Linked DNA regions of Homo sapiens: all the other regions are linked to region 5. Evidence: fine-mapped expression QTL. A gene starts in region 5. Each other region holds a variant in brackets. All regions are shown on one strand. Distances are between the middles of the regions. Region 1 overlaps GIT2 (GIT ArfGAP 2). Region 2 overlaps ATP2A2 (ATPase sarcoplasmic/endoplasmic reticulum Ca2+ transporting 2). Region 3 overlaps FAM222A (family with sequence similarity 222 member A). Region 4 has its middle 16 kb from the start of PPP1CC. Region 5 holds the start of TCTN1 (tectonic family member 1). Region 6 holds the start of MYL2 (myosin light chain 2). Region 7 has its middle 29 kb from the start of CCDC63.

Region 1 (4,207 bases), 640 kb before region 5:
AGTATATATTAGGCCTTATGGTTTTTTGTTTATTTCTTGAGGCAGGGTCTTGCTCTGTTGCCCAGGCTGGAGAGCAGTGGCATGATCAGCACTCACTGCAGACTTGACCTCCTGAGCTCAAGTGATCCTCCCACCTCAGCCCCTCCTGAGTAGCTGAGACTATGGGCATGCACCACCATGCCTGGCTGCTTTCTATAAAATTTTTTGTAGTGAAAGGATCTTGCTCTGTTGCTTGGGCTGGTCTCAAACTCCTATGCTTAAGCGATTAGGAGAATTGCTTCAGGCTCCCTGAAGTGTTGGGATTACAGGTGTGAGCCATAGCTCCCAGCCCCTTTTGTTTTTTAATCCATTCTGAGAATCTCTGCTTTTCATTGATGTGTTTGGGTCATTAACATTTAATGTAACTATTGATATGTACGGACTTAAGTCTATAATGTTATTATTTATTTTCTATTTGGTCCTTAGTTTTTTGTTCTCCCCCTCCTCTTTTGAATATTTTGAATCAAAATATCTTTTGATGATTTGAGTAATTTTTAATACTCCATTTTCATTTACCTCTAGCATTTTTGATCACATATCTTTGTAGTCTTTTTTTTTTTTTTTTTTTAGATGGAGTCTCACTCTATCACCCAGGCTGGAGTGCAGTGGCATGATCTCGGCTCACTGCAACCTCTGCCTCCCGGGTTCAAGCAATTCTCCTGCCTCACCCTCCCAAGTAGCTAGGACTACAGGCACGTACCACCATGCCTAGCTAATTTTTGTATTTTTAGAAGAGACAGGGTTTCACCATGTTGGCCAGGATGGTCTCAATCTCTTGACCTCATGATCTGCCCACCTCAGCCTCCCAAAGTGCTGGGATTACAGGCACTACACCGTGCCTGGCTTGTAGTCTTCTTTCAGTGGTTATGGTAGAAATTACTATACACACACACACACACAAACACACACACACACAACTTTTCACAGTCTACTTAGAAATCCTATTTTACATTTCCAGTAGAAGGTAGAAATCTTACCATTATATTTTTTACCCTATCCCCTTTTATATTATAGTTGTCAAATATATTACACTGATATATGCTGAAAACCCTACTAGATAATTTTTTTTTTTTTTTTTTTGAGACGGAGTCTCACTCTGTCGCCCAGGTTGGAGTGCAGTGGTGCAATCTCAGCTCACTACAAGCTCCGCCTCCCGGGTTCACGCCATCCTCCTGCCTCAGCCTCCCGAGTAGCTGGGACTACAGGCGCCCACCACCACGCCCGGCTAATTTTTTGTATTTGTAGTAGAGACGGGGTTTCATCGTGTTAGCCAGGATGGTTTTGATCTCCTGACCTCGTGATCTGCCCACCTCGGCCTCCCAAAGTGCTGGGATTACGGGCGTGAGCCACCGCGCCTGGCGTTTTCTTTTCTTTTTTTTTTTTTTTGAGATGGAGTCTCCCTGTCGCCCAGGCAGGAGTGCAGTGGCACGATCTCGGCTCACTGTAACCTTTGCCTCCTAGGTTCAAGTGGTTCTCCTGCCTCAGCCTCCTGAGTAGCTGGGTTTACAGGCATGTACCACCATGCCCGGTTAATTTTTGTAGTTTTAGTAGAGACAGGGTTTCACCATGTTGGTCAGGCTGGTCTCAAACTCCTGATGTCAGGTGATCCGCCTGCCTCGGCCTGCCAAAGTGCTGGGATTACAGGCTTGAGCTACTGCACCTGGCTGACAATGTTACAGCTTTAAGATATGTATGACAATTTCAACTTTTTGTTTGTTTCTTGAGACAGGGTCTTACTCTGCCACATCTTTAACATTTCTGTTGTTTTTCTTTCATTCCTAAAGTTCCAAGATTCCCTCTGGCATCATTTCCCTTCCACCCAAAGAACTTTCTCTAGCATTTCTGTTAAAGTAAAGAATAATTCTTTTTTTTCCTGTTAGAATGTCCTTATTTTGCCTTCATTCCAAAGTTATTTTCATTGGATATAGAGTTCTGGGTTCACAGCTCTTTTCTTTTAGCACTTTAAAAGTATTGTTTCTACCATCACAAAGAAGATGAGAAAAAATAATAATAATAAAAAAGGAGCAGTGGCTCATGCCTGTAAT[C/T]GGGAGGCCCAGGTGGGTGGATTACTTGAGCTCAGGAATTCAAGACCAGCCTGGGCAACATGGTGAAACCCCATCTCTACAAAAAATACAAAAGTTATCTGGGCACAGTGGCACACACCTGTAGTCCCAGCTACTGTGGATGCTGAGGTGGGAGGATCACTTGAGCTCAAGAGGTTGAGGTTTCAGTGAGTCGAGATCACGCCACTGCACTCCAGCCTAGGCGATGGAGTGAGACCCTGTCTCAAAATAATAATAATAATAAAAGTATTATTCTGGCTGGGTGAGGTGGCTCATGCCTGCAGTCCCAGCCCTTTGGGAAGCCGAGGTGGGCGGATCACGAGGTCGGGAGTTCGAGACCAACCTGGCCAACATGGTGAAACCCCATCTCTACTAAATATGCAAAAATTAGCCGGGCATGGTGGCAGGCACGTGTAATCCCAGCTACTCAGGAGGCTGAGGCAAGAGAATCGCTTGAACCTGGGAGGCGGAGGTTTCAGTGAGCCAAGATTGCACCACTGCACTCCAGCCTGGGCAACAGAGAGATACTCCATCTCAAACAAACAAAGTATTATTTCATTTCCTTCTCATCTCTATGGTTTCTGATAAGAAATCCACAATCATTCAAATCACTGTTTTTCTATATATGTTATGTGTCACTTTTTCCTGGCTGCTTTCAAGATGTTTTCTTCAACTTTAGTTTTCAACAGTTTGATTTTGATGTGTCTCAACTGTGGATTTGAGTTTATCTTCTTTGGAATTTTCTAAGTTTCTTGAATCTGTAAGTTTATGTCTTTCACCAAATTTAGAGGTTTTTTTTTTTTTTTTTTTTTTTTGAGACGGAGTTTCGCTCTGTTGCCCAGGTTGGAGTGCAGTGGCTCAATCTGGACTCACTGCAACCTCTACCTCCCAGGTTCAAGTGATTCTTGTGCCTCAGCTACCTGAGTAGCTGGGATTACAGGTGCGCACCAACATGCCCGGCTACTTTTTGTATCTTTAGTAGAGATGGGGTTTCACCATGTTGGCCAGGCTGGTCTCAAACTCCCAACCTCAAATGATCTGCCCGCCTCAGCCTCCCAAAGTGCTGGGATTACAGGTGTGAGCCATTGAGCCTGTCCCAAATTTAGAGGGTTTTTTTGGCCAATATTTCTTCAAATACGTTTTCTGCACACACCACTCTTTCTCATCTCTTATTGGGAATCCAACGACATAAATGTCAGACATTTTAGTATTTTCCCACAGGTCCCTGAGACTCTGTTCAGTCTTTTCTTCCTACTCTTTTTTCCTCTCTGTTGCTTAAACCAGATAATTTCTAGTGATCTGTTTTCAATTCATTGACTTTCTTTGTCATCTCTATTCTTCTATTAAGCCCATCCAGTAAGTTTTAAATTTTTAGTGTTTGTATTTTTCAGTTCTAATATTCCTATTTGGTTCTCTTCTGTATCTTCTATTTCTCTGATGGGACTTTCTATATTCCTGTTTGTTTCAAGAATGTTTGCTTTTACTTCTTATAGCATGGTCTTACTAGCTGCTTTAAAATCTTTGTCTGATAACGCCAACATTTGTGTCATCTTGGGGTTGGCATCTGTTGGCTGCCTTCCCTGGCAAGTACATGAGAATTACTCAGATGTCAAGTCATTATGGATGATATCCTAGACACTGTGAATGTTTTGTTATGAGACTCTGGGCCTTCTTTAAACTTTATGCAAAAATGTTCATATTTTTGTCTTAGCAGGCAACTGACCAGGTGAGGTTCTGCCTCCTGGGCAGATGGTGAGAGAATAGAGAGAAAAAGACAAGCAATCAGGATCCCCCCTCATCCCCTTGCTCAGAGATTTAGGAACCTGTGCTGCCACTGCTGCTGCTGCTATTGCAGCCACAGGCTTGCCTAGGGGCTGGATGGGAGAGATCAGAAAAAGGAAGGAGGAGGAGGAAAAAACCCCAGGGGAATCCCCTTCCTCTCTGTCCTGTAGAAGTCCCATTTCCTGCTCTTTAACCAGAAAAAGGCTTTTTTTTTTTTTTTTTTTTTGAGATGGAGTCTCATTCTGTCACCCAGGCTGGAGTGCAGTGGCGCAATCTTGGCTCACTGCAACCTCTGCCTCCTGGGTTCAAGCAATTCTGCCTCA
Region 2 (4,207 bases), 320 kb before region 5:
ACAGTAACATTTATTATACTCATTCTGGTTGTCTGTTTGCCCTAGCTCACTGGACGTTGGTGGTGATTGGCATCTGTCAGGACTTGGTGGTCCTGGTGCCTCCTGTTTTTATTTTTCTTTTTGTCCTGCTCAAACAGATATTTCTTATTCATGCCGTCTTCTAATGAGTCATTTGGATTCATTATTGCCATAAATCATTTGGAGGAGTGTTTTCATGATTTACTAAGTAGATCTTTTAAAGAAGATTTTATTATGAAATATGCAAACATTTTAAGCAATTTTTTAATTAAAAAAAATTCGACCTCCAAGATTAAATCATTAGATGTGGTTAACACTGTTTCTGGATTGGTAAGTTTCCACAAAAAGAGGTTTTTAAATTTTTAACCACATAGACCACTCTTTACCATATTCATTATTCTTAGTATTCATTGTGGTGAGTTCTCTCTTTTTACCACGTTTATAGTTGTTGGATTGGGAAGTGCAGTGTGACTCTTACTTTGTAGTTTTTAAATCTTAACAAGTTTATAGTTGTATGAGCTAAAAGTTTAAACCTCTGCCCCATTTTCTTGGGGCAGTGTTCTGTGACCAGTTACATTTTTGGACTTAGGTTATCTCTGAAGTGCTGTGTTGCTGTATAAATGTCATATGGAGGATAACCTACAAAATACACTTCGGATCTCCCAACAGCTTTGCGGTTCTGAAACAGCCTTCAGTAGTACCACTGAAAAGAAACGGGGAATTAACTGGTTTTTTGTTTCTTTTATAGAGATGAGGGTCTCGCTATGTTGCCCAGGCTGGTCTCAAGCTCCTGGCATGAAATGATCCTCCTGCCTTGGCCTCCCAAAGTGCCGGGATTATAGGCATGAGCCACTGTTCCCGGCCTAGAATTAAACAGTTTATATATGCTCTAAAATTTAAGTCAGTGATCAAGTTGTTTATACTGTGGATTTATGTCACATGGATATTACTTGATATGAATAATAACTAAATGAACATGACTGTTAGATGATCACCTTTTACTTTAATCAAGAATTGAAGTTTTATTTTTTCTAAATAGATACATATAAAATGAATGGAATTTATTCCCTCTCCCCAGATTTTATTTGGATTCTAAAATGGAATTATTACATCAAAAGATAAGGTATTTTTAAGAAGTATAGTTGTTTTTTTGAGACTGAGTCTTGCTCTAACGCCCAGGCTGGTGTGCAGTGGTGCGATCTCAGCTCACTGCAACCTTTGCCTCCCAGGTTCAAGCGATTCTCCTGCCTCAGCTTCCCAACTAGCTAGGACTGCAGGTGTGCGCCACCACACCTGGCTAATTTTTTGTGTTTCTAGTAGAGGTGGTTTCACCTTGTTGGCCAGGGTGGTCTCGAATTCCTGACCTCAGGCGATCTACCTGTCTCGGCCTCCCAAAGTGCTGGGATTACAGACTTGAACCACCACACCCAGCCATGAAGTATAGTTTTTTGTTTGTTTTTTGAGTTTTGCTTTTGTTGCCCAGGCTGGAGTGCAATGGTGCGATCTTGGCTCACCGCAACCTCTGCCTCCCGGGTTCAAGCGATTCTCCTGCCTCAGCCTCCTGAGTAGCTGGGATTACAGGCATGCACCACCACACACTGCTAATTTTGTAATTTTAGTAGAGATAGGGTTTCTTCGTGTTGGTCAGGCTGGTCTCGAGCTCCAGACCTCAGGTGATCCCCCCGCCTTGGCCTCCCAAAGTGCTGGAATTACAGGCGTGAGCCATCGCACCCGGCTTTTTTTTTTGTTTTGAGACCGAGTCTTGCTCTGTTGCCCAGGCTGGAGTGCAGTGGCACGATCTCGGCTCACTGCCACCTCCGCCTCCTAGGTACAAGTGATTCTCTTGCCTCAGCCTCCCCAGTAGGTGGGATTACTGACACACATCACCATGCCCAGGTAATTTTTTTGTATTTTTAGTAGAGACGGGGTTTCGCCATGTCGGCCAGGCTGGTCTGGAACTCCTGACCTCAGGTGATCTGCCCGCCTCAGCCTCCCAAAGTGTTGGGATTACAGGTGTGAGCCACTGTGCCCAGCTGAAGTATAGTTTTGACTTTCAAGAATTCTTATGAACAAGACATAGCCAGTTGTTTATATAATTGCATTTTCTACCGTTTATTTCTAGAGAAAGAAAATAGATTTTGTCTATCATAATCCCTTTAGTGCTAGCCA[CT/C]TTTTTTTTTTTTTTTTTTTGAGTTTTCGCTCTTGCTGCCCAGGCTGGAGTGCAATGGCATGCAGTACACTCACGGCTCACTGCAACCTTTGCCTCCCCAGGTTCAAGTGATTCTCTTGCCTCAGCCTCCTGAGTAGCTGGGATTACAGGCACCTACCACCATGTCCAGCTAATTTTTTGTATTTTTAGTAGAGATGGGGTTTCGCCATGTTGGGCAGGTTGGTCTGGAACTCTTGACCTCAGGTGATCGCCTGCCTTGGCCTCCCAAAGTGCTGGGATTACAGGCCTGAGCCACCATGCTCGGCCAGTGCTAGCCACTTTTTAAAAAAGTGACATTAAGCCTAAAAAGACACATTCTAACGTGCCATTTCTCTTCTAGGTTTTGGCTTGGTTTGAAGAAGGTGAAGAAACAATTACAGCCTTTGTAGAACCTTTTGTAATTTTACTCATATTAGTAGCCAATGCAATTGTGGGTGTATGGCAGGTAAGCAAAAATTCCTGTACTGCAAAATTTCAATAAGTTATGTAAGTGATTAGGGCTGTATTAATCTTTCTGTTATCTGTTTTTCCTGATGTGTTGAGTAAAAATATGTTTGCGGGAAGTTTACATGTATTTTCCCTTTATTCCATAAATTAATTGTTTTCTGACACAGTCTCACTCTGTTGCCCAGGCTGGAGTGCAATGGTGTTGTCTCGGCTCACTGCAACCTCTTCCTCCCAGGTTCAAGTGGTTCTCGTGCCTCAGCCTCCCAAGTAGCTGGGACTACAGGCACGCACCACCACGCCCAGCTCATTTTTGTATTTTTTGGTAAGAGACAGGGTTTCACCATGTTGGCCAGGCTGGTCTTGAGCTCCTGACCTCAAGTGATCCGCCCTCCTCAGCCTCCCAAAGTGCTGGGATTACAGACGTGAGCCACCATGCCCGGCCTATTAATTTAATTAATTGCAAATTTTTGACCTTAATGCATATAAACTTTGCAGTTAAGATTGCTCATTCTTCGCCAAGTGTGGTGGCACCAGCCTGTAGTCTCAGCTACTCAGGAGGCTGAGGTGGGAGGGTTGCTTGAACCCAGGAGGTCAAGACTGTAGTGAGCCATGATCGTAACACTGCACTCCAGTCTGGGCAAAGGAGCAACACTGTCTCAGAAAAACATTGTTCATTCTTTACGGTAGCAAGGAATTAAAATGGGTGAGAGAAGCTGCTTAAGGAAATGAGAATGTGAGAACCATTATCTTTATGTCTCCTAGTTGCTTCCTGTGACAAACTTTAAAAGCTACATGTCATTTTTATTCTCCTTGGGTTTTTTTGGTAGGTTTAGCTATAAAAATTGTTTCCCCTTCAGTGCTTACTACAGACTCTGAGACTTAAAATTCATGTTAAGTGTTGATCTTTTAGGTATTTGACGGATATAATCACCCCTTTGAGGACTGAAGTAGACCTTTTTTTTGTTTTTGTTTTGAGACCGACTCTCTGTCGCCCAGGCAGGAGTGCAGTGGCACGATCTCGGCTCACTGCAACCTCCGCCTCCCAGGTTCAAGCAGTTCTGCCTCAGCCTCCTTGAGTAGCTGGGATTACAGGCACCTGACACCACACCCAGCTAATTTTTGTATTTTTAGTAGAGACGGGGTTTCACCATCAGGCTGGTCTCAAACCCCTGACCTCGTGATCCACCCACCTCGGCCTCCCAAAGTGCTGGGATTACAGGTGTGAGCCACCACTCCCGGCCTTTTTTTTTTTTTTTTTTTTTGTTTGTTTGTTTGTTTGTTTGTTTTGACCGACTTTCACTCTTGTTGCCCAGGCTGGAGTGCAATGGTGCAGTCTTGGCTCACTGCAACCTCCACTTCCCGGGATCAAGCAATTCTCCTGTCTCACCCTCCCGGGTAGCTGGGATTACAGGCACGTGCCACCATGCCCAGCTAACTTACTTACTTTTAATAGAGATGGGGTTTCATTTTGTTGGTCAGGCTGGTCTCAAACTCCTGACCTCAGATGATTCCCCCTGCCTTGGCCTCCCAAAG
Region 3 (4,207 bases), 850 kb before region 5:
ATGGCTGGTAAATGAAGAGCTGGTCCCTTTTTTGCGGGACTCTCCGAGTGGCGCTAAGTGCCCATGAAATTGCTTGTATAATGTAGTTTAAATCCAATCTCGGAGAAAGATTCCCCCGTTGGCCAAAGTGACATTTCCATTCTCCACACCGAGTTTATTTTAGGCCACTTAGGAGGAGGCTGCCCCGGGCAGAGTCGGGATGGGGGTCCATGGCTGGGTCCACTTGCCCAGCCCCAGTGAGGCCAGATGAACGGAGAGCCACCTACTTCTTCACTCCCTGCTGCCCTGGCCAGGTCAGACCACACCCTTCACCCAGGGCAGAGGCAAATAAGCCCACTGAAGCTCATTTGCCTAGGCTCATAGGCCTGCCCATGCCTTACCCTGCTTAAAACCTCCCATGGCTGCCCAGTGCCCCACGTCGGGGCCTCTCCCCCTTTGGCCCTGCTGACAGTTGGGACTGGACCCTTTTCTGTGGCAGAGCTGTCCTGTGCATTGTAGGATGTTTAGTGGCATCCCAGGCCATGACCCACCCGATGCCAGTAGCACCTCTACCCCTAGCTGTGACAGCCAATCATGTCTCTACACACAGCCAGAGTGCCCCGTGCAGTGAGAGCCGCTTTCCTGCAGCGAAGAGGCCCTCCCGGCCGGCCACCTCTCTTGGGCTTCTCTCTGCAAGCCTGCCCCGGTGCCTCTCTCCTCCCGAGTCATTTGCAGTTCCCACCCTGACTACTTCTCTGCCTCAGGGCCTTTGCCTGGGCTGTTTACTCTGCCTGAAATCTGTTTCTCCCTCCCTTTTCACCTCTTCTACCAGTGGCCCAGGACTTAACCAGGATACAGTTCCTTTTGGGAAGCTGTCTCTGGACCCCCATGTCCCGCCACCGCCTGTTCCTCTCCATCCCATTTCACTTGGATTGGTTGTGAGCCCACGAGGTGTCAGGGACGATGCTTTAGAAGGTTGGGACATGGCCAGCAGCCTTCTGATCAGTGGGGAGGTAGCAGGGTCTGCACTCTATCCCCAGCTGCGATGCCAGTCCCACCTGTGCCTGTCTGAAGGGTGGCATGAGTCCCCTGCCCCTTTTCTGGGAGGGCCCTTTCTCTGGGCAGATGGGGAAGGTATTAATACTCACGCTCACAGAACACCAGCTTTTGTTAACGCCATCTACCGCACATGACCCGTCAAACCCTCCCAGCCATCTTGGGAAGTAGTATTAGCAGTAGCATCACCCCATTTTACAGATGAGGAAGCAGAGGCCGAGTGGTGAAGCTCCTCTCCCAGGCTCCCCTGAAAGTAATGAGCTCCAAGCACCTATCATGTACCTCACCCCCTACTGAGCCCCCGGCGCCTCCATTCCTTGAGGCCACCTTGGAGACCTGGCATGATCATGACCCTCATTCTACAGGTGGGAAAACAGGCTCAGCTGGGCAAACTACATGCCCAGGGCCATTCCATCTGCCTCATGGAACTCCACCACCACCACTCTCCATACCCCCTCAGCCCCGGAAAGCTGTGGGCTGCCCTTGGGAATGTCTCAGGACCAGGGAGGGGCTATGGATGGGGGCAGGAGTCTGCCCGCCATGGCCCTCCTTCCCCATGGCAGGGCCAGTTGTGTCCACTTATAGTGGGGACAGTCAGCCTGTAGCACAGAGCGTACCCTTCAGCCCCATGCAGGCGGCTCACTAAAAAGGCAGCAGCAGCCATGCTGGCCTTACAGGTGAACAGTAGACTCAAGGAGGGGCCAGGAAGCAAGAGGCAGCAGCTCGCCCTGGCGCTAAGCCCCATCTGCCGTGTTCACGTAGTAGCACACTTAACCAGCCAATGAGGTGGGCAGGGGGTCATCATCCCGTTTCACAGGTGAGGAAGGAAGGCATACGGAGGATAAAAGGGTTAGAAGGAAGGAATGTCCCCCAGAGTGGTGACAGAATGAAAGATGACACCAAGCACTGGCAGGTTGTGGGGCCACTGGAACTCCTGTGCTCTGCGGGTGGGAGTGTAGCCTGGCATGGTCTCACGGATAAATGGTCAGGCATTTTCTCCCGAAGCCGGGCAGGGGCATCTC[C/T]CCTGTGACCTAGAAATTCCATTCCTGGGTATATTTCCAACAGAACTCTGCATGCACTAGGGGCCATGGCACTGTATTTATTTACTTTTATTTTTTTGAGACAAGGTCTTGCTCTATCGGCCAGGCTGGAATGCAATGGCACAGTCACAGCTCACTGTAGCCTCCAACTCCTGGGCTCAGGTGATCCTCCCACCTCAGCCTCCAAAGTAGCTAGGACTATAGGCATGCACCATAATGCTTGGCTTCTTTTTTTTTTTTTTTTTTTTTTTTCTTATAAAGACAAGGTCTTGCTGTGTCACCCAGTCTGATCTTGAACTCCTGGGCTCAAGCGATCCTTCCACTTCAGCTTCCCAAAGTGCTGGGATTACAGGTGTGAGCCACCTCACCCAGCTAGAAACAACCCAAATGCCATCAAGAATAGAAAGGTTGGGCCAGGTGCAGTGGCTCATGCCTGTAATCCCAGCACTTTGGGAGGCTGAGGCAGGAGGATCACTTGAGCTCAGGAGTTTAAGACTGGCCTGGCCAACGTGGCGCAACCCCGTCTCTGCAAAAAATACAAAAATTAGCCAGGCATGCTAGCGCATGCCTAGGATCACTTGAGCCTAGGAGGTCGAGGCTGTAGTGAGCCATGACTGCACCACTGCACTCCAGCCTGGGTGACAGAGCAAGACCCTGTCTCTAAAAGAACAGAAACGATGAATAGATTGCGGCATAGTCACACAACAAATACCATACAGCGATGAGACAGACCAGACTACTCCCCACACAGCCACCTGGATGACTCTCACATAGTATGAAGTGACAGAAGCCAGGTGCAAATGAGTACATACTGTAGAATTCCATCTTACCACATACACAAACCAGGCACAACCAGTCCATGTTAGAAGTCAGGATAGTGGTTAGCGTGGTGTGGTTAGAGACTGGGAGGGGCCCAGGGACCCTACAGGGGATTAGCAATGTCCTGTCTCCTGGCCTGGGTACCATAAAACAGGTGTGTTCCTTTTGTGAAAGTCCATCAAGCTTATGATGCAGGCAGTTCCCTGCACTTTACACTGAAATTCGAAGTTTAAAAATGTAGAAGGAATAAGGAGTAAAATGAATGGGAAATGAGTGGAGGGGGCGGGACTCGTGAGCCCTGTGGGGAGAGGTTGGCATGGCCTCCTGATGGGCCCTCACACCTGCTTTCCTCCCACAGGCGAGGCGGTGGCCAGCGCCATGCATTCCTCCCGCTACCCGAGCCCAGCAGAACTGGACGCCTATGCCGAGAAGGTGGCCAACAGCCCGCTGTCCATCAAGATCTTCCCCACCAACATCCGTGTGCCCCAGCACAAGCACCTCAGCCGCACAGTCAATGGCTATGACACCAGTGGCCAGCGCTACAGCCCCTACCCACAGCACACCGCTGGCTACCAGGGCCTTCTGGCCATTGTCAAGGCCGCGGTTTCCTCCTCCAGCACGGCCGCACCAGCTGGGCCCGCCAAAAGTGTGCTCAAGAGCGCCGAGGGCAAGCGGACCAAGCTGTCACCGGCCGCCGTGCAGGTGGGCATTGCGCCCTACCCAGTGCCCAGCACTCTGGGTCCCTTGGCCTACCCCAAGCCACCTGAGGCGCCTGCTCCACCACCCGGCCTGCCCGCAGCCGCCACTGCCGCCTCCGTCATCCCCCTGCCGGGCCGGGGCCTGCCCCTGCCACCTTCCAACCTGCCCTCCATCCACAGCCTCCTGTACCAGCTCAACCAGCAGTGCCAGGCCCCGGGCGCCGCACCCCCTGCCTGCCAGGGCATGGCTATTCCCCATCCCAGCCCTGCCAAGCACGGCCCAGTGCCCAGCTTCCCCAGCATGGCCTACTCGGCTGCAGCCGGTCTGCCCGACTGCCGGAAAGGCACTGAGCTGGGCCAGGGAGCCACCCAAGCCTTGACGTTGGCTGGGGCCGCCAAGCCTGCAGGGTACGCAGACAGCGGCCTGGATTACCTGCTGTGGCCGCAGAAACCGCCCCCACCGCCGCCCCAGCCACTGCGTGCCTACAGTGGGAGCACGGTGGCCAGCAAGTCCCCTGAGGCTTGCGGGGGCCGGGCATACGAGCGGGCCAGCGGGTCACCCCTCAACTGTGGCGTGGGGCTGCCCACCAGCTTCACCGTAGGCCAGTACTTTGC
Region 4 (4,207 bases), 140 kb after region 5:
TTTCCCTGACCACCGGAATAAAATGCTCCCTAGCCCTCAATCCTTCCATCACACTTTTTCTTTTTGAAACAGGGTTTGGTACAGTCACCCAGACTGGAGTGCAGTGGCACGATCAGGGCTCACGGTAACCTCATCCACCCAGGCTCAAGTGATTCTGCAGCCTCGGCCTCCTGAGTAGCTGGAACCACAAGCACAGAGCACTGCACTCGGCTAATTTTAAAATTTTTGGGCCTGGCGCGGTGGCTCATGCCTGTAAACCCAGCACTTTGGGAGGCCGAGGCGGATGGAACACTTTAGGTCAGGAGTTCAAGACCAACCTGGCCAATGTGGTGAAACCCCGTGTCTACTTAAAAAAATTAGCTGGGTGTGGTGGTGCATGCCTGTAATCCCAGCTACTCGGGAGGCTGAGGCAAGAGAACCCCTTAAACCCGGGAGGCAGAGGTTGCAGTGAGCCGAGATTGCTCCATTGCACTCCAGCCTGGGCAACAAGAGTGAAAAACTGTCTCAAAAAAAAAAATTTTTTTTTTTTGTAAAGACAGAGTCTCACTATATTGTTCAGGCCGGTCTCGAACTGCTGGGCTCAAGCAATCCTCCTGTCTTTGTCTCCCAAAGTGCTGGGATTATGGGCATGAACCACTGCACCCAGCCCCCTTCCCATTTTTCTGTTTTTCTCCATGTGATTCTTCACTGCCTGACATTGTGTTATGTCTTTGATTGCCTGTTTTCTGTTTCCACGTGGGTGGGGATTTTTGTCTGCTTGCTATTCTTGCTTTTGTGCCTGGGCCCGTGCCTGGCACATACAAGGTATTCAGTAAAAAATTCTTGAATAGGCCAGGCATGGTGGCTCATGCCTGTAAATCCCAGTACTTAGGGAGGCCAAGGTGGAAGAATGGCTTCAGGCTAGGAGCTCAAGACCAGCCTAGCAACATAGTGAGACCCTGTCTCTACAAAAAAATTTAAAATTAGCCAGGTGGGGTGGGTGCACTGTAGTACCAGCTACTTACGAAGCCGAAGCAGGAGGATCGCTTGAGCCCAGAAGTCAAGGATGCGGTGAACAGTGATCATGCCGCTGCTCTCCAATTTGTGTGATAGAGTGAAACTCTGTTTCTAAAATAACAACAAAAAAAGTTGAATAAACATAAACAAATGGGCCAGGTGCAGGCTCACGCCTGTAATCCCAGCACTTTCGGAGGCCTAGGTTGACGGATCATGAGGTCAGGAGTTCGAGACCAGCCTGACCAACATGGTGAAACCCCGTCTCTACTAAAAATACAAAAATTAGCCAGGTGTGGTGGCACGTGCCTGTAATCCCAGCTACTCGGGAGGCTGAGACAGGAGAATCACTTGAACTCGAGAGGTGGAGGTTGCAGTGAGCCGAGATCACGCCACTACACTCCAGTCTGGGCAACAGAGCGAGACTCCATCTCAAAAACAAACAAACAAAAAACAACAAAAACACAACATTATAGTTGTAAAATTGGGATAATAGTTGGGGAAGAATTGAATGAAGTAATGCAGGTAAGAGCTTAACACAGCACTGGGCTCCCAGTGGGTATGCGTGGGAACCTTGCTATTCACCTCACATCACAGGCCTGGCAGGGCCTGGGAGCTGATGGCTGTTTCTAGGAGGAAGAAAGGCCATTTGTGGGCCATCTCACGGGGCAGAACAGGCCTCTCTCTGGCCCAAGAGTGCCCATCACTGCAGCCGCCGGGGCAAGGGACAGTCTCTTTTTGACTTTGCTGCTTTATAGATTAAGGAAGAGAAACCACCCGAGGGAGTTAAGGCTG[G/GA]AAAAAAAAATCTTAATTATTTTGACAGTGGGAGTGGGAGAGGGAAACAAATGGCTCATTATTGATTTAATTTTCCAAAGTCCAAAATCAGCATGGCAACATCACCAAGGTAAATAAAAATTAAAAGAATAATCATCCCTCTCCTTTCATACTCATTCTATGTATTTGTTGCTGTTTATTTCTTTGTTTTGTGCTTATGTTTAAAGATAAAAACAAAATAACCTGTTGCAAGTTGGGTTTTCCAGAAGCAGGCACTGAGATGTATGACAGGCTTTGAAAATATACAATGATTTATTTATTGTTCAGTGTAAAAAGTCACGTTGCAGAGCAGTATATAAGTCATAAACCTGTTTGTGTAAAATAAAAAAGTATGAGGTGGTTATATATCCTTGTCTAGGCAGAGAAAATTTCCGGTAGGGGGCTGGGCAGAGTGGCTCACACCTGCAATCCCAGCGCTTTGGGAGGCTGAGGCAGGTTGATCGCTTGAGCCCAGGTTTTCAAGACCAGCCTGGGCAACATAGCAAGACCCTGTGCAGTGGCTCACGCCTGTAATCTCAACATAGCGAGACCTCAACAATAAAATAAAAATCTCAACAATAAAAATAAATTTAACAAAAAGAAAATTTCTGGCAGGATATACACAAAATGTCAACAGTGGGGAGTGTGGCTGGCTGGGAATAGGTGCTGGTGTTCCCCTTGTTATCTTCTATACTCTTTGAATTGTTTTAAAAGTATCAGACAGATATTACTTACATAATAAAAATTTCAGATTAAAATGTTGGTCATGATTTTTGGTCTACCTTTTAAAAATTTTTAGCAGTTTACTGTCCATGTTTGAATAATGCAAATACAATATGTGCTATGGGCTGAACTGCATCCTCCCAAAATTCCAAGGTTGAAGTCTTAACCCCTAGAACCTCAGGATGTGATTGTATTTGGAGATAAGGCCTTGGAAGAGGTGACTGAGTTAGATTGGGGTCATTAGGGTAGGCCCTAATCCAATATGAATGACGTTCTTATAAGAAGAGAGATTAGGGTCCGGGTGTGGTGGCTCATGCCTGTAATCCCAGCACTTTGGGAGGCCGAGGTGGGCAGATCATGAGGTCAGGAGAGCGAGACCATCTTGGCTAACACAGTGAAACCCCATCTCTATTTAAAAAAAAAAAATTAGCGGGGCATGGTGGCGGGTACCTGTAGTCCCAGCTACTTGGGAGGCTGAGGCAGGAGAATGGTGTGAACTGGGGAGGTGGACCTTGCTGTGAGCTGAGATCGCGCCACTGCACTCCAGCCTGGGTGACAGAGCGAAGACACATTAGGCCAGGCATGGTGGTGCATGCCTGTAATCCTAATCCCAGCACTTTGGGAGGCTGAAGCAGGAGGATTGCCTCAGCCCAGGAGTTTGAGACCAGCCTGGGCAACATGGTGAGACCCCATCTCTAAAAAAAAAAAAAAAAAAAAAATTAGCCTGGTGTGGTGATGTGTGCCTATGGCTTATGGCCCTAGCTACTCAGGTGACTAAAGAAAGAAGAAAGAAGAGAGATTAGGGGCCAGGCATGGTGGCTCACTTGAGAGTGTCACTTGAGTCTGGGAGATCAAGGCTGCAGTGAGTCATGATTGCACCACTGCACTCCAGCCTGGGTGACAGAGCAGAAAAAAAAAGAGCGATTAGAACACAGCAAACACACACAGAAGAAGACCCTGTGAAGACAGGTGGAAGACGGTCATCTAAAGCCAGGGAGAGAGCCTCAGAATGAAACTGCCCTGCTGACACCTTCGTCTTGGACTTCCAGCTTCCAGAACTGCGAGGAAATAAATTTCTGTTGCTTAAGCCACCTGGCTTGTGGTATTTTGTTGTGAAAGCTCTAGCAGACAAATATAATGTGTTAAATATTTAGAAAACATGGAAACGTGGAAAGGATGAAATCACACATAATTCTACCATCCAGCAAGACCCACAGCAAGATGCTGCTTCTGGCTCAGAGTGAAGTTGCCGGGGGCTTGGTGTCCATGCTCCTCACCTCACCACTTGCCTTCGGAAAGCTGGGGGTAGATTTAGCATCTGAAGAGCCTGCCTCCACACAAATGGGATGGCAGGGCAGTTTGGCCCTTTCAGCTTGCTATGGACTTTCTATGAAAAGGTGATGCTTCCTTCTATAAGGTCATAAAATTCCATACACCAGAGAATTTGAGTGTGACATGATTTAGAGCAGGAGATGGTAACTTTTTCTGTAAAGCTCCAGATAGAAAATATTTTTGACTTTTGCAGGCCCAGTGGTCTTTGTCATGAATACTCATCTGCCAATGTAGCATGAAAGCAGTCTTTGACAATACATCAAAGAATGAATGAGTGTGGTTGTTTCCTAATAAAACTTTATTTACAAAAATGTGGTGGGCCCATGACCCTCATCAGACGGTGCTT
Region 5 (4,207 bases):
ATTACAGGCGTGAGCCACCATGCCCGGCCTACTTTTGGTTATTTTTTTTAAAAGGGGAAGCATTTAATCAGTTATTAAAAGCAGTCCAGAATTTCAGTCAGATGCTAAAGCAATCCTTTGCAGAAAAAAAGAAGTATCTGTCTTACACATTTGAGTGATTCAATTATATTTTTATACACTGTCTCTGGAATGCCACAGGAAGGTGCTAAAGATATCACTTTGATGATTTAGTTTTGCTAAATACATTTAATAAACTAGATATATATACTGTTTGACATCCTTTTGAATTGGTATATACATTTCTTGAATAAATACTGTGTTATGTTTAAGGTTTTTTTGTTTTGGAGTGCAGTGGCACTATCATGGCTTACTGCAGCCTCAAGCTCTCCAGACTGAGGCGATCCTTCCACCTCAGCCTCCTGAGTAGCTGGGACTACAGGAATGTGCCACCATACCTGGCTAATTTTTGTATTTTTTGTAGAGATGTGGTTTCACCATGTTGCCCAGGCTGGTCTCAACTCCTGGACTCAAGCGATCCTCCCAAAGGGCTGGGAGTACAGGTGTGAGCCACTGTGCCTGGCCACGTCTAAGTACTTCGACATCTACTTCTGAACTGTATGGAGATTAAGTGTCAAAGGTGCAGCCAACATTCTTGGGCTTGGGTACCTCCTAAATAAGCCCATTCAGAATGGAGAGGGTTTCCTAAATCGTAGGGTCTCCAGGTCGTTTTGTAGCATTACAGTGGATTTGCTTTGTTTTCCCCTTTAAGATGTCTAAATTATTTTACTTAATTTTTGTAAAAGATTTTTGTCTTTAAATAGGTTCTTAGGCCTGGCGTGGTGGCTCATGCCTGTAATCCTAGCTCTTTGGGAGGCTGAGGCGGGAGGATCACTTGAGGCCAGGAGTTTGTGACTAGCCTGATCAACATAGTGAGACCCCCTCTCTACAAAAAATAATAAAAGGTATTAAGTGTTCATTTGTCCCCTTTATCACAATACAGCAGACAGAAGTTATCTGGCAACCTTGTGAGATGCAGCTAAAATAAAAAGGTGAAGCCAGTGTTGACAGAGTCTGGGATAGAGAAAATTCAGAGACAGTGATCTCACAGATCCCTGTGCTCCTTCCAAACACCCACGTTAGTGGCGTTGGGACGGCGCTTCCTAAATTTCCGTCCAACTCATCTGCTTGCGTCCGGACATTTGTTAAAAATATTTATTCCTGGCTGGGAGTGGTGGCTCACGCCTGTAATCCCAACTACTCAGGACTCAGGAGGCTGGAGCAGGTGGATCACTTGAACCAGGAGTTCGATACCAGTCCGGGCGACGGAGGGAGACCTCGTCTTTACAAAAAAAAAAAAAAAAAAAAAAAAATACAAAAATTAGCTGGGTATGGTGGCGCGCGCCTGAGTTCCCAGCTACTCAGGAGGCTGAAGTGGGAGGATTGCTTGAGTCCCAGAGGTCGAGGCTGCAGTGAGCCGAGATCGCGCTACTGCACTCCAGCCTGGGCGACAGAGTGAGACCCTGTCTCAAAAAAAATCCCCCAAAAACTGATTCCTGGGTCCTGCCCTAGACTAACTGACTCAGGATCTCCTGAGGTGGTACCTGGAAATCCGTCTTTTTTTTTTTTTTTTTTTTTTTTGGTTGAGACAGAGTGTCACACTGTCGCCCAGGCTGGAGTGCAGTGGCACGCTCACGGCTCTCTGTAGCCTTCACCTCCCGGGTTCAAGCGATTCTTCTGCCTCAGCCTCCCGAGTAGCTGGAACTACAGAAAATCTGCATTTTTTAAGCAAGCGCCGCGGACCGGTTGGAAACCACAGCCGGGATTTACACGCCCCTCGTTTACGCCAGCTTCACACCCGCTCACTAGTGCTCGCCCCTGTGCCTGCCATCGCTGCCTCACCCAGGCGCCGCCCTCCGGCCTCATCCGGGATCCGCCCCCTGCCTCATCCAGGCTTCGCCCCAGTCAGTCTCCGGCAGCTTCTCGCGGCTTCGCAAGCCCCTTCCCGTGATGCCCCGCGCCTGGCTGTCGCGGTTGCCGGGCAACGCGCTGTCCATGTCGCGGGCCTCGCTGGGACTCCCTGGGAGATGAGGCCGCGAGGTCTCCCGCCGCTCCTGGTGGTGCTCCTGGGCTGCTGGGCCTCCGTGAGCGCCCAGACCGATGCCACCCCGGCGGTGACGACAGAGGGCCTCAACTCCACCGAGGCAGCCCTGGCCACCTTCGGAACTTTCCCGTCGACCAGGCCCCCCGGGACTCCCAGGGCTCCAGGGCCCTCCTCCGGCCCCAGGCCTACCCCAGTCACGGACGGTGGGTACCATGTGCCAGCTCCTGGAGTCCACAGTGATCCAACCTCAAGGGGACAGCCCCGGTGAGGACGTAATAATGATAGCTAACTCTTATTGAGCACTTACTGTGTGCAGACACTGCTGAGTGTTCCATAAACGTCCATTCTCTAAACAATAACCCTGAGAAGTAGCTGTTACTATCACTGTCAGGTAAATGAGAAAACCGGGTCTCAGAGTTTAAGTGGAACGGTATCAAACCTTTGAAAATACTTGAAGTGGTCCCAGACAACAGTGATGCAAAGAGCAATAATGAATTCTTGCAGCCCAAGACGAAATTAAGTCGAGACAATGGTGGAAATTAGTGCCTTGGCTGCACTGAACTTTCACTTAAAGAGAGGCCAAAGGTCTATCTTACTAAATGTGACTATGTTAAGACCCTTCTCTGTTGACCTGAATTCTAAAAACCCAGGATTCCTCCTGTGTTGAATTGGAGGTGGAAAGCTATTGAGGGAGGGGTTATGCTCACTTCTTAGGAGTCATATGTAGGGATAATTAACATTTTTTTCAGAAAATGATTAATTCTAGAATTACACATTTAGTGGAAATATTTTATAATCTAATTTGACGTTTGGCTGGCGCCGTGGCTCACGCCTGTAATCCCAGCACTTTGGGAGGTCAACTCGGGTGGATTGCTTGAGGTAGGAGTTCAAGATCAGTCTGGTCAAAATGGCGAAACCCAGTCTCTACTAAAAATAGAAAAAATAGCCGGGCATGGTGTAATCCTAGCTACTCGGGAGGCTGAGGCAGGAGACTCGCTTGAACCCAGGAGGCAGAGGTTGCAGTAATTACCACTGCACTCCAGACTGGGCGACAGAGCAAGACTGTCTCAAAAAAAAAAATTGACATGGATGACTTCACTGAATGACTGTGACCCGCTAAGATTGAGTGCAAAACTTTGTGAATATGCCTTTTCCTGAGATGAGAGTTCATAGCAGCCGATTCTTAAAGTGGTTCATGATCTCAAAAAAAGTTTTTAAAATTTTCCGATTGTGTGAATTGAGAGTAACCCCAATAGATATGCAGTACTTTTAATCTTTTTTTATTCTTTTTTTGTTTTTGAGACAAGGTCTCGCTCTGTTACCCAGGCTGGAGTGCAGTGGCGTGATTATATCTCACTTAAGTCTCAATCTGCTGGGCTCAAGGGATCCTTCTGCCTCAGCCTCCAGAGTAGCTGGAACCACAGGCGTGCTCCCCCAGCTTGCTTTTTTTATTTTTTTATTTTTAGTAGAGATGAGATCTCGCTATGTTGTTCAGGCTGATCTCAAACTCCTGGGCTCAAGTGATCCTCCCACCTTGGCCTTCCAAAGTGCTGGGATTACAGGTGTAAACAACTGTGCCCAGCCTATCCCTTCTTAAGAAGATCTTTTCTCAAATTGATTAAGGCTCAGTATTAGTAAGTAAAAAAGTCATCAGCTGAGATCTTGAACTCTAGGACTTAACTGCGGTTACTGAACCTTTATTTCTCCAAAAGCTCTCCTTTCTGAATTACGAGTAATCTGAAAGAAAAAGTACAGAGAAATATATTTGCTATTTTAATATATAAACAGAGCTCTGTTTTATATTTAAATTGTTGATTTGATGAATTAGTAGGGAAGTTAAATCAGTGATAAACTGGGACAGAAGAAAGCCAAGTATTCAATGCCTGAAACTCTAAAGTTTTTGGACTGGATTGTCTTTTATTCATGTAAGTACTCCATCTGTTAATGCATTTTCTCTCCAAAATAAAGCTATGCTTGAAACATCATTATTATAGCATGTGTTCAAGGCTGTTTTTCCAGTATAGGGGATGAATTTGTGCTTGTCCTCACACTTTATTTTTTTTTTTTTTGGTCACAGGGTCTCACTCTGTCACTCAGGCTGGAGTA
Region 6 (4,166 bases), 310 kb after region 5:
TGCTGGAGGGAGCAAAGGACATGACATGAAGTTTCTCCAGAGCCCTCTGGTACCAGTGGATCATAAGCGTTTGTGCATCTTGCAGTGGCTCCTTCACCAACTAGGAGAAGCCACAGGTGTGTCCCTGGGGATGGAGGCCACACCTTCAGATCGCCCCTGCAGGATCCAGCCACTTTTGTTCTGATGCATTTCACAAAAAGCTCAGTAATGCACAGAAGGAGAATTGATTGGAGGGAAAGAAAAAGTCAGGCTCACTAAGCCATGATGAATGCCAAGATGAAATGACAGTTCTTCAAGGTGTTAAAACCCAACTGCGCCCCACACCCCACAATTTTCCCTTGCTCCAAATGGCAGCAAAACCTCCTCTCTGAATGCTCCGTCCTTGCACCACATCAATAGGGCAGAGAAGAGCGAGTTGACCTTTCTTCCCCACCCCACTTCTCTCTGACTTTCAATAACAGCAAATGATTCGGTACTCTACATATGTATTATTTAATTCTCATAACCACTCTGTCAAGTGGATACTATTATTATCATCCCCATTTTACAGGAGAGGCAACTGAGGCTCAGAGAGGTTGGGTCACTTGCCCAAGATCACACAGCCACACACACAGAAGGCAGAGCCGGAGTTGAACTTGGGCGTTGAACTTGGGGAGTTGAACTTGGGCATTCTGACTCCAGAGTTCCTGCCTCTAACCACTCTCCCTCCTGTGCTGACCCTGATTTGGGGACTGCCCACTTCAGGAGGGGGACACCTAACCCAACAGCACAGAAAGAAAGGTTTTAAATTTGCAAGTTCAAAAGGTGAAAACAAAAACATTCTTTTTCCCAGCTGCCTGAACAAGAGAAAAGAATTACAATTTGATCCTTAAAAGCATTCAATCCCATTTTGCAAGTCCTGGGAGTTATTGATTCCTCGAGAGGTCAGTAGACAAGCCATAAAAAAGCCAACTCTCTTATTTTGTGTTTGTGAGTCCCCGAGAGCTGCTGTTATTTGTGGCCTATCGGGGCATTGATTGGGGTTCCTCTGTGCCCGCGCAGTCAATGGGGCTTTTTCCACAAGGGGCTGGAGGCTTTGAGGGCCGCCTTCCTCCCCCTCCGCCGTGGTCCCTCGCTTGTAGTGGCTTCCTCTCCTCGCCCACCCGGCATCATCACCTCCTGGAGCCCTTGTACTCACCATGGTGGAAAGGACCCAGCACTGCCTCCCGAGAAGAATTCCACACTCCGCCCAGCTCTCTGCAGCCCAGGAACAATAAATACTTCCTCCCCATGTTTAAAAATAACCCCATGACCGCTTTTGGCAGTCATAGGTGAGGCGGGCACCACCTAAGGCCCCCCCACCCCATGCCGTTCTTCTGAAGTAAGGGTGGCTCACTCGCCACTGGGTGACACGTGAGCCCCCAAAAAGGCATTCAAGGTTAAAGAGGCAGTAGCTGGGTCATGGTCACGGGGAGAGATGCTGCGCGCTCTCTGCGGTGCTTGGGCCGGGGACACTTGTGCTTGTCAATTTTGAGAAAAAAAATGGCAGGGAGAGGAGACTGCTAAAATGCTCTGTTTTATCAGCCTGGATCTGGCCTCAGGGTCTTTGCACCTGTGTGCCCTCTACCTGGAATGTCTTTCTGTCAGTCATCGCACGGCTCCTTCCTTCACCTCCTTCACTGCATCTTTGCTCATATGTCATCTCCTGAGTGAAGCCTCCCCGACCACCATCTTTAAAATAACCATGAAGGCTGGCACTGTGGCTCATGCCTGAAATCCCAGCACGGCGGGAGGCCGAGGCGGGAAGATTGCTTGAGCCTAGGAGTTTGCGACCAGCCTGGGTGACATAGGGAGATGCCTGTCTCTACGCAAAAGAAAAAAAAATAGCTGTGCGTGGTGGTGCATGCCTATAGTCTCAGCTATTCAGGAGGCTGGGACAGGAGGATCACTTGGGCCCGGGAGGTTGAGGCTGTGGTGAGCCACGATCACACCACTGCACTCCAGCCTGGGTGACAGAGCAAGACCCTGTCTCAAAACAAACAAATAACACAGCCACGCACCTCCTGCGCTCCGATCTCCCTTCTTTGTTTCTCTGCACAGCGTGAGGCAGTCCCGAACACTGCCCACAGTGCACTGACTCATTTTCTTCAGCATCTGTGGAGCGTCAGCTCAGAGGGCAGGGATCACTTTAGTTTCCCTCACCACTGACTGTCTCCCCAGCTCCCAGCTCATGATGCACACAGCAGCAGCTCAAAAATAAATATTTGTTGACTGAAGAAATGACAAATCTCATTGACTGAGCACTGGCACGTGCCGGACACTATGTGCTCATGGCTCCCACACATAATTTTCCAGCCACCCTAGAGGGTGGGGACCACCTCATCATCCATGCCCCCATTTTACAGATGCGGAAACAAAAGCTCAGAGAGGCGAAGTGAGCTGCCCAGGGTCACACAGTGATGGAGCTAGGCGTGGACCCCTCTGGAGGCCCCTTTGT[C/T]TCCAGAGTCCAGGCTCTTTAAGAGCCTTGAAAACAGCAGCTGCTCTCAGAATGCAAGGTGTCATTATATAATACTTTTACTGAAGACAGCTTTCCTGCTGGGTGCAGTGGCTTATACCTGAAATGCCAGCACTTTGAGAGGCTGAGGCGGGTGGATCACTTGAGTCAGGAGTTCAAGACGACCTTGGCCAACATGATGAAACTTGTCGCTACTAAAAATACAAAAATTAGCCAGGCGTTGTGGCGCGGGCCTGTAGTCCCAGCTACTCAGGAGACTGAGGCAGGAGAATCGCTTGAGGCCGAGAGGCAGAGGTTGCAGTGAGCCGAGATAGCGCCATTGCACTCCAGCCTGGGCGACAGAGTGAGACTCTGACTCAAAAAAAAAAAAAAAAAAAAAAAGGACGGGCATGTTGGCTCACACCTAGCACTTTGGGAGGCCGAGGCGGGTAGATCACCTGAGGTCAGGAGTTCAAGACCAGTCTGGCCAACATGACAGAACCCCATCTCTACTAAAAATACAAAAATTAGCTGGGCGTTGTGGCACATGCCTGTACTCCCAGCTACTTGGGAGGCTAAGGCAGGAGGATTGCTTGAACCCAGGAGGCGGAGGTTGCAGTGAGCCGAGATCGTGCCATTGCACTCCAGCCTGGGCGACAGAGCAAGACTCCATCTCAAAAACAAAGACCAAAAAAACCCCAAACTAAACCAAAACAACAAAAGATGGCCATCTTCCTGTGCCCTTAAAGACAGCCTTGGGATTCAGGGAGCAAGAACTCGGGGCTTGGAATCATTGTGGTTATTTAGTGTCCGTGGGTGGCAGGCCTGAGTGCCAGAGGCCACACCTCTAAGAAGGAGAATGTCCCTCTGCCCTCCCAGTAGTGTGGGTGCGGGGCTGATGGCTGAACCAGCATTCATTCCCCTTCATCGAGCCCAGCGCAAAGCAACAAATTCCCTTCCCTTGAGGTGCGTAAGTGCGAGGGGAAGATGGACAAGGAGAAAGTAAACAAATGCACAACCCAGACAGTTGCAGGCAGTGACGGATCTCATGCAGGGATGAGACAGAGGCATGGCAGTGGCCAGGTGACAGCCTCAGACAGGGGCGCAGGTGGGCTCCTCCAAGCAGAGTCTGCAAAGGGGGCTCCAGGCAGTGGGGACAGCACATACCTCAAGGCAGGGAGAATTTGGAGGCTTTGAGGAACAGAAGGCCCCCTGGGGCTGGAGTTTTCCAGAGCTTAAAAAAAGAAATCACTTTTCTTATTAGGTTTTCCAGAGGGTAAAAGGAGGTGAGACCTGGCAAATGGTAGCTATCACTCACTCCCCTTCTCAGGTGGAAAAATAATCTCAATTTGGGGGCACACAAACCCAAGGACCATTGATGGCTGTGACAAAAAAAGGTGTGGGTTTTTTTCTTCTCTGCAGTCCCACATGGGTTAGAGTTACCCAGGACACTCTTCTGACAGATCTTTAATAACAAAAGATGTGTTCATGTGTGTGTGTAGGCACATGCATGCACAGACAAAAACACGTCTGCACATGCATAGAGGCACACAGACACGTGCATGTACACGCATCCACATATGTGCAGTGCACACATCAAGAGGAGCTTTTCTGTCCAAGGTTCTCTGACAACACCAGAATAAATGTTTCCCTAGCTAATAGGCACACCATAGATTTTCGTTAAAACCCTGTG
Region 7 (4,207 bases), 200 kb after region 5:
CACTTTCAGAAGGCGGTTAACACCATCTGGCCTTGAGAATTCTGAGTCTTTATATTTCAGGATTGAGCTGAGACCTTTGTGAAACATCATCTCTGGGAGGGCCAGCCTGGGCCCAGCTCACAGACATAAGCTGTCCTCATATCCCAACTTCTCATTGACTCACACACGCACTCAGTGCTTTATTGAGCACCTAGTGTGTGTCAGTTGCTGGGCAAGGTGCCAGGGCTGTACTGTAGCAAGGAAAACAGGAGACAAGGTCCCTGCCATCATGAAGCTCATGTGCTACAGGGAGTGACAGACAGCAGGTAAGTAAACAATAACAAATGAATATATAATAGCAGAGAAAAATAACAGCAATGGAAACAAGCAAAGCAGGGGAAGAGGGTTAGACAGTGACTGGGATGGGGAGGTGGATGGTATGTGAGTATTTTAAACTCAAGGAGGTGCTTCTTCCTGGGATGCTCTGGGATATTCTGGGATACCTGAGATAGCCAGGTAAAATCCACTAGGAATTCGTTGCTGACACTGAGGCAGGAGAATAGCGTCTGCAGGCAGGGAAACTAAGGTCAGTTCATGCTGACTTCCTAGAACTAAATCAAAAGGAAAGTCCCAACTTTCCAAGCCCAAGTAACAAAAGGACCAGAGGAACAAAGGACCAGAGGCTGGACTGTGCCCAGCCTGTTCTTCCTACAATCTTTATGCAGATATAGATGAATGTGAAAACAAGAGAGTTTTAAAAAGTCTGAAAGGAGCTAGTTAGAATGTCAATAGAGGTTGCTCACAGAACTGTAAGAGGCAGAGGAGATAGAGGGTGGAACTTCGTTTCTGAGCCTGGCTGCCTGGGTTCATATCCTAGCCTTGCCACTTGCTAGCTGTGAGAAGAGGGCAAATCACTTCACCTATGTATGCCTCAGTTTCCTCATCTGTAAAATGGTGCAATAATGACATGCAGGTATGAGATTATCTTCCTATTTATAAAGCACTTCCAACAGATCTAGTACGTAATGAATCCAATCTAAGTGTTTTTTTCTAACTGTGTTGAAACAAGTGGGCATGAAAAGATTCCTTTTCCACCCTGAGCTACAGATTGAGAAGTTTTTGGGGCTGGGTTCTGCTACCTGTATTAAATATATTTTTTTAAATTAAAAACCTTTTGTTATAGAAAATGTTGAACATACATGAAAGTAGAGAGAATGTTACCTTTTTTTCTAAATTGAGATGGAGTCTCGCTCTGTCGCCCAGGCTGCAGTGCAGTGGCGCGATCTCGGCTCACTCCAAGCTCCGCCTCCCAGGTTCACGCCATTCTCCTGCCTCAGCCTCCCGAGTAGCTGGGACTACAGGCGCCCGCCACCACACCTGGCTAACTTTTGTTTTTGTATTTTTAGTAGAGACGGGGTTTCACCGTGTTAGCCAGGGTGGTCTCGATCTCCCGACCTTGTGATCCACCCGCCTCGGCCTCCCAAAGTGCTGGGATGAGCCACCCACTACAGGCGCCCACCACCACGCCCGGCTAATTCTTTGTATTTTTAGTAGAGATGGGGTTTCACAGTGTTAGCAAGGATGGTCTAGATCTCCTGACCTCATGATCTGCCCGCCTTGGCCTCCCAAAGTGCTGGGATTACAGGCGTGAGCCACCGCGCCCGGCCAGGTGTTTGTTTTTATCCTCCTATTTTTTCCATTTCTAGCACTTTCCATATCTGTAAAATAGGATTAATAATAGTACCTATCTCATAGGGTTATTGTGAGAATTAAATGAATTAATGCTTATAAAATGCTTATAAAATGTTAAAAAACACGGCCTCCCAAAGTGCTGGCATGAGCCACCATGCCCGGCCACAATTTTTTATTTTGTTTCTTTTCTTTTAAGACAGAGTCTTGCTCTGTCGCCCAGGCTGGAGTACAGTGGCACCATCTCAGCTCACTGCAACCTCTGCCTCCTAGATTCAAGTGATCCTCCTGTCTCAGCCTCCCGAGTAGCTGGGACTGCAGGCATGTGCCACCATGCTCCACTAATTTTTTGTATTTTTAGTAGAGATGGGGTTTAACCATGTTGGCCAGGCTGGTCTTGAACTCCTGACCTCAAGTGCTCCATCTGCCTTGGCCTTCCAAAGTGCTGGGATTACAGGCATGAGCCACTGCACCTGGCCTATTTTTTTATTTTCTTGAGACATGGTCTCCCTCTTTTACCTAGGCTGGAGTGCAGTGGCACGATCATGGCTCAGTCACCTCAAACACCTGGGCTCATGGGATCCTCCCACCTCAGCCACCTGAGTAGCTCAGACTATGGGTGTGCACTACTGCACCCAGCTAATTTTCTAATTTCTTTTGTAGAGACGGGGTCTTGCTATGTTGCCAGGGCTGTTCTTGAATTCCTAGGCTCAAGAGATCCTCTTGCCTCAGCTTCCCAAACTGCTGGAATTATAGGCATGAG[C/T]CACCTTCCTTGGCTCAGAATATTATAATTAACCTTTGTACACCCATTGTTCATGTCAATGATTAGCAACTCATGGTGACACCTGCATTTTTAACAAGGCCCTGGTGCACACTACATCTTGAGAAACCCCCAGTGGAATTCCAGGACGCTCCTGAGGCTGTTACTGGAAAGGGGTCCCGATCCAGACTCCAAGAGAGGGTTCTTGGATCTCTCGGAAGAAAGAAGTCGAGTGAGTCCATAGAGTAAAGTGAAAGCAAGTTTATTAGGAAAGTAAGGGATAAAAGAATGGCTACTCCATAGACAGAGCAGCCCTGAGGGCTGTTAGTGGCCCTATTTTTATGGTTATTTCTTGATGATATGCTAAACAAGGGGTGGATTATTCATGCCTCCCCTTTTTAGATCATATACGGTAACTTCCTGACATTGTCATGGCATTTATAAACTGTCATGATGCTGGTGGGAGCGTAGCAGTGAGGACGACCAGAGGTCAAGTCTTGTTGCCATCTTGGTTTTGGTGGGTTTTAGCCGGCTTCTTTATTGCAAACTGTTTTATCAGCCAGGTCTTTATGACCTGTATCTGCCTACCTCCTATCTCATCCTGTGACTTAGAATACCTTAACCATCTAGGAATGCAGCCCGGTAGGTCTCAGCCTCATTTTACTCAGCCCCTATTCAAGATGGAGTTGCTCTGGTTCACATCCCTCTCACAAGGCCTGTTGGATACATGTTAGTTTGTTGGGATTTTGCTAGACAAATTGCTAATCTTGAAATCAGAAAAGATGATAACAAAAAACTTTTTTTCTCTCCCAAGAAAAATTTTGTCTGCTCCTAAGAAGAGGATTTTCTGTCCAAGTTCAGTGGACGAGAGCACCAGACACCCCCTGGAAAGACTCAAGATTCCAGCCCTGTCCTGTGGTCCCTTCAACTGACAGCAACCACTCACTCCCCAGCCCCACTTACTATCAAGGGAGCCCAGGGCCTGCTTCACCCAGGCCCTGGGAACAAGATTTGAGAAGCAAATGAATTGTGTGAGTTAATTCAAGGGCCACCTTTGGCTCCCTTAGCAGCACAAATTGTCCCTGAGGACATTGACTCGATTCTTGGATACAAAGGGAGATACGAATTTACCTTTGACTGCTCTCTGGGCATTAAAGCTGGTCTTGAATGTTTTCTCTGGGCGGTTCCCTGTCATTAGGGAGGTGCCCACATTTACCAAATCAACGAGCCCGATTTCACCTGGTCACACCCTTCCTTGGCACAGAAAACAGTGACTTCTTTTTCCTCCTGCTAATTTGCTGTCAAGATGTTCTACTAATCATCATCATAATTACTAATATTCACTGCCCACTTAGTAAGCTCTTTATACCCATTAACTCAATTCATTCTTGCAACGACCTTGTGAGGTGAAACTATTGTTACCCACAGATCACAGAAGAGGACACCGAGGCCTACAGAACTGTGGCAAAGACTGCTCCATGTTCCCAACATCCATTTTTTTCCCTCTTTCAAAGTAAAAGAAATCCAATTTTACTAGGGAACATGGCTGTCCAGAATTCCCAGCCTCCTTTGTGGGTAAGTGTGGCCATGGGACTCTGGTATGGGCTAAGGATGTCGGGGGAAGAGTCCCGCAGTGGTTCTGAAACACTCTCTCTAAGAGGTCACTGCTTCTTCATCCCTTCTTTTATTCTGGCATCTGGAACTTGAAGGCCACCATCTTGAACTGCGACGTAGGAGTGCCCTGAATGGAGGTGCATCTGGCTGGGAGGATACCATTGA

Evidence for each region. PIP is the estimated chance that this variant, and not a neighbour inherited with it, causes the effect.
Region 1: its variant is fine-mapped to the expression of TCTN1 in whole blood (TOPMed, PIP 0.91).
Region 2: its variant is fine-mapped to the expression of TCTN1 in whole blood (INTERVAL, PIP above 0.99).
Region 3: its variant is fine-mapped to the expression of TCTN1 in whole blood (TOPMed, PIP above 0.99).
Region 4: its variant is fine-mapped to the expression of TCTN1 in whole blood (TOPMed, PIP above 0.99).
Region 6: its variant is fine-mapped to the expression of TCTN1 in tibial artery (GTEx, PIP above 0.99).
Region 7: its variant is fine-mapped to the expression of TCTN1 in unexposed skin (GTEx, PIP above 0.99). The same link has a PIP of 0.9 or more in whole blood.

What each region holds. Positions count from the first base shown.
Region 1 is chr12:109,975,184-109,979,390 of GRCh38, forward strand. The region is part of intron 7 of GIT2 (GIT ArfGAP 2); the gene reads right to left. All of the region lies in intron 1 of LOC124903013 (a long non-coding RNA gene), which reads left to right. Among named protein-coding and RNA genes, the nearest start is that of GIT2, 19 kb to the right of the region's middle. The variant C/T (reference allele first, on the strand shown) is at 2,085.
Region 2 is chr12:110,289,453-110,293,659 of GRCh38, forward strand. ATP2A2 (ATPase sarcoplasmic/endoplasmic reticulum Ca2+ transporting 2) reads left to right here. Exons shown (of 20, transcript NM_170665.4): 4 at 2,568-2,672. Among named protein-coding and RNA genes, the nearest start is that of ATP2A2, 10 kb to the left of the region's middle. The variant CT/C (reference allele first, on the strand shown) is at 2,188.
Region 3 is chr12:109,764,760-109,768,966 of GRCh38, forward strand. It overlaps FAM222A (family with sequence similarity 222 member A), which reads left to right. Exons shown (of 3, transcript NM_032829.3): 3 at 3,253-4,207. All of the region lies in intron 1 of FAM222A-AS1 (FAM222A antisense RNA 1), which reads right to left. Among named protein-coding and RNA genes, the nearest start is that of FAM222A-AS1, 6.6 kb to the right of the region's middle. The variant C/T (reference allele first, on the strand shown) is at 2,058.
Region 4 is chr12:110,756,929-110,761,135 of GRCh38, forward strand. No RefSeq gene overlaps it. Among named protein-coding and RNA genes, the nearest start is that of PPP1CC, 16 kb to the left of the region's middle. The variant G/GA (reference allele first, on the strand shown) is at 1,789.
Region 5 is chr12:110,612,099-110,616,305 of GRCh38, forward strand. It overlaps TCTN1 (tectonic family member 1), which reads left to right and starts at 2,031. Exons shown (of 15, transcript NM_001082538.3): 1 at 2,031-2,304. The coding sequence starts at 2,085. RefSeq lists an enhancer at 2,308-2,357.
Region 6 is chr12:110,919,350-110,923,515 of GRCh38, forward strand. It overlaps MYL2 (myosin light chain 2), which reads right to left and starts at 1,230. Exons shown (of 7, transcript NM_000432.4): 1 at 1,178-1,230. The coding sequence starts at 1,180. RefSeq lists an enhancer at 1-2,038. The variant C/T (reference allele first, on the strand shown) is at 2,477.
Region 7 is chr12:110,816,234-110,820,440 of GRCh38, forward strand. No RefSeq gene overlaps it. Among named protein-coding and RNA genes, the nearest start is that of CCDC63, 29 kb to the right of the region's middle. The variant C/T (reference allele first, on the strand shown) is at 2,432.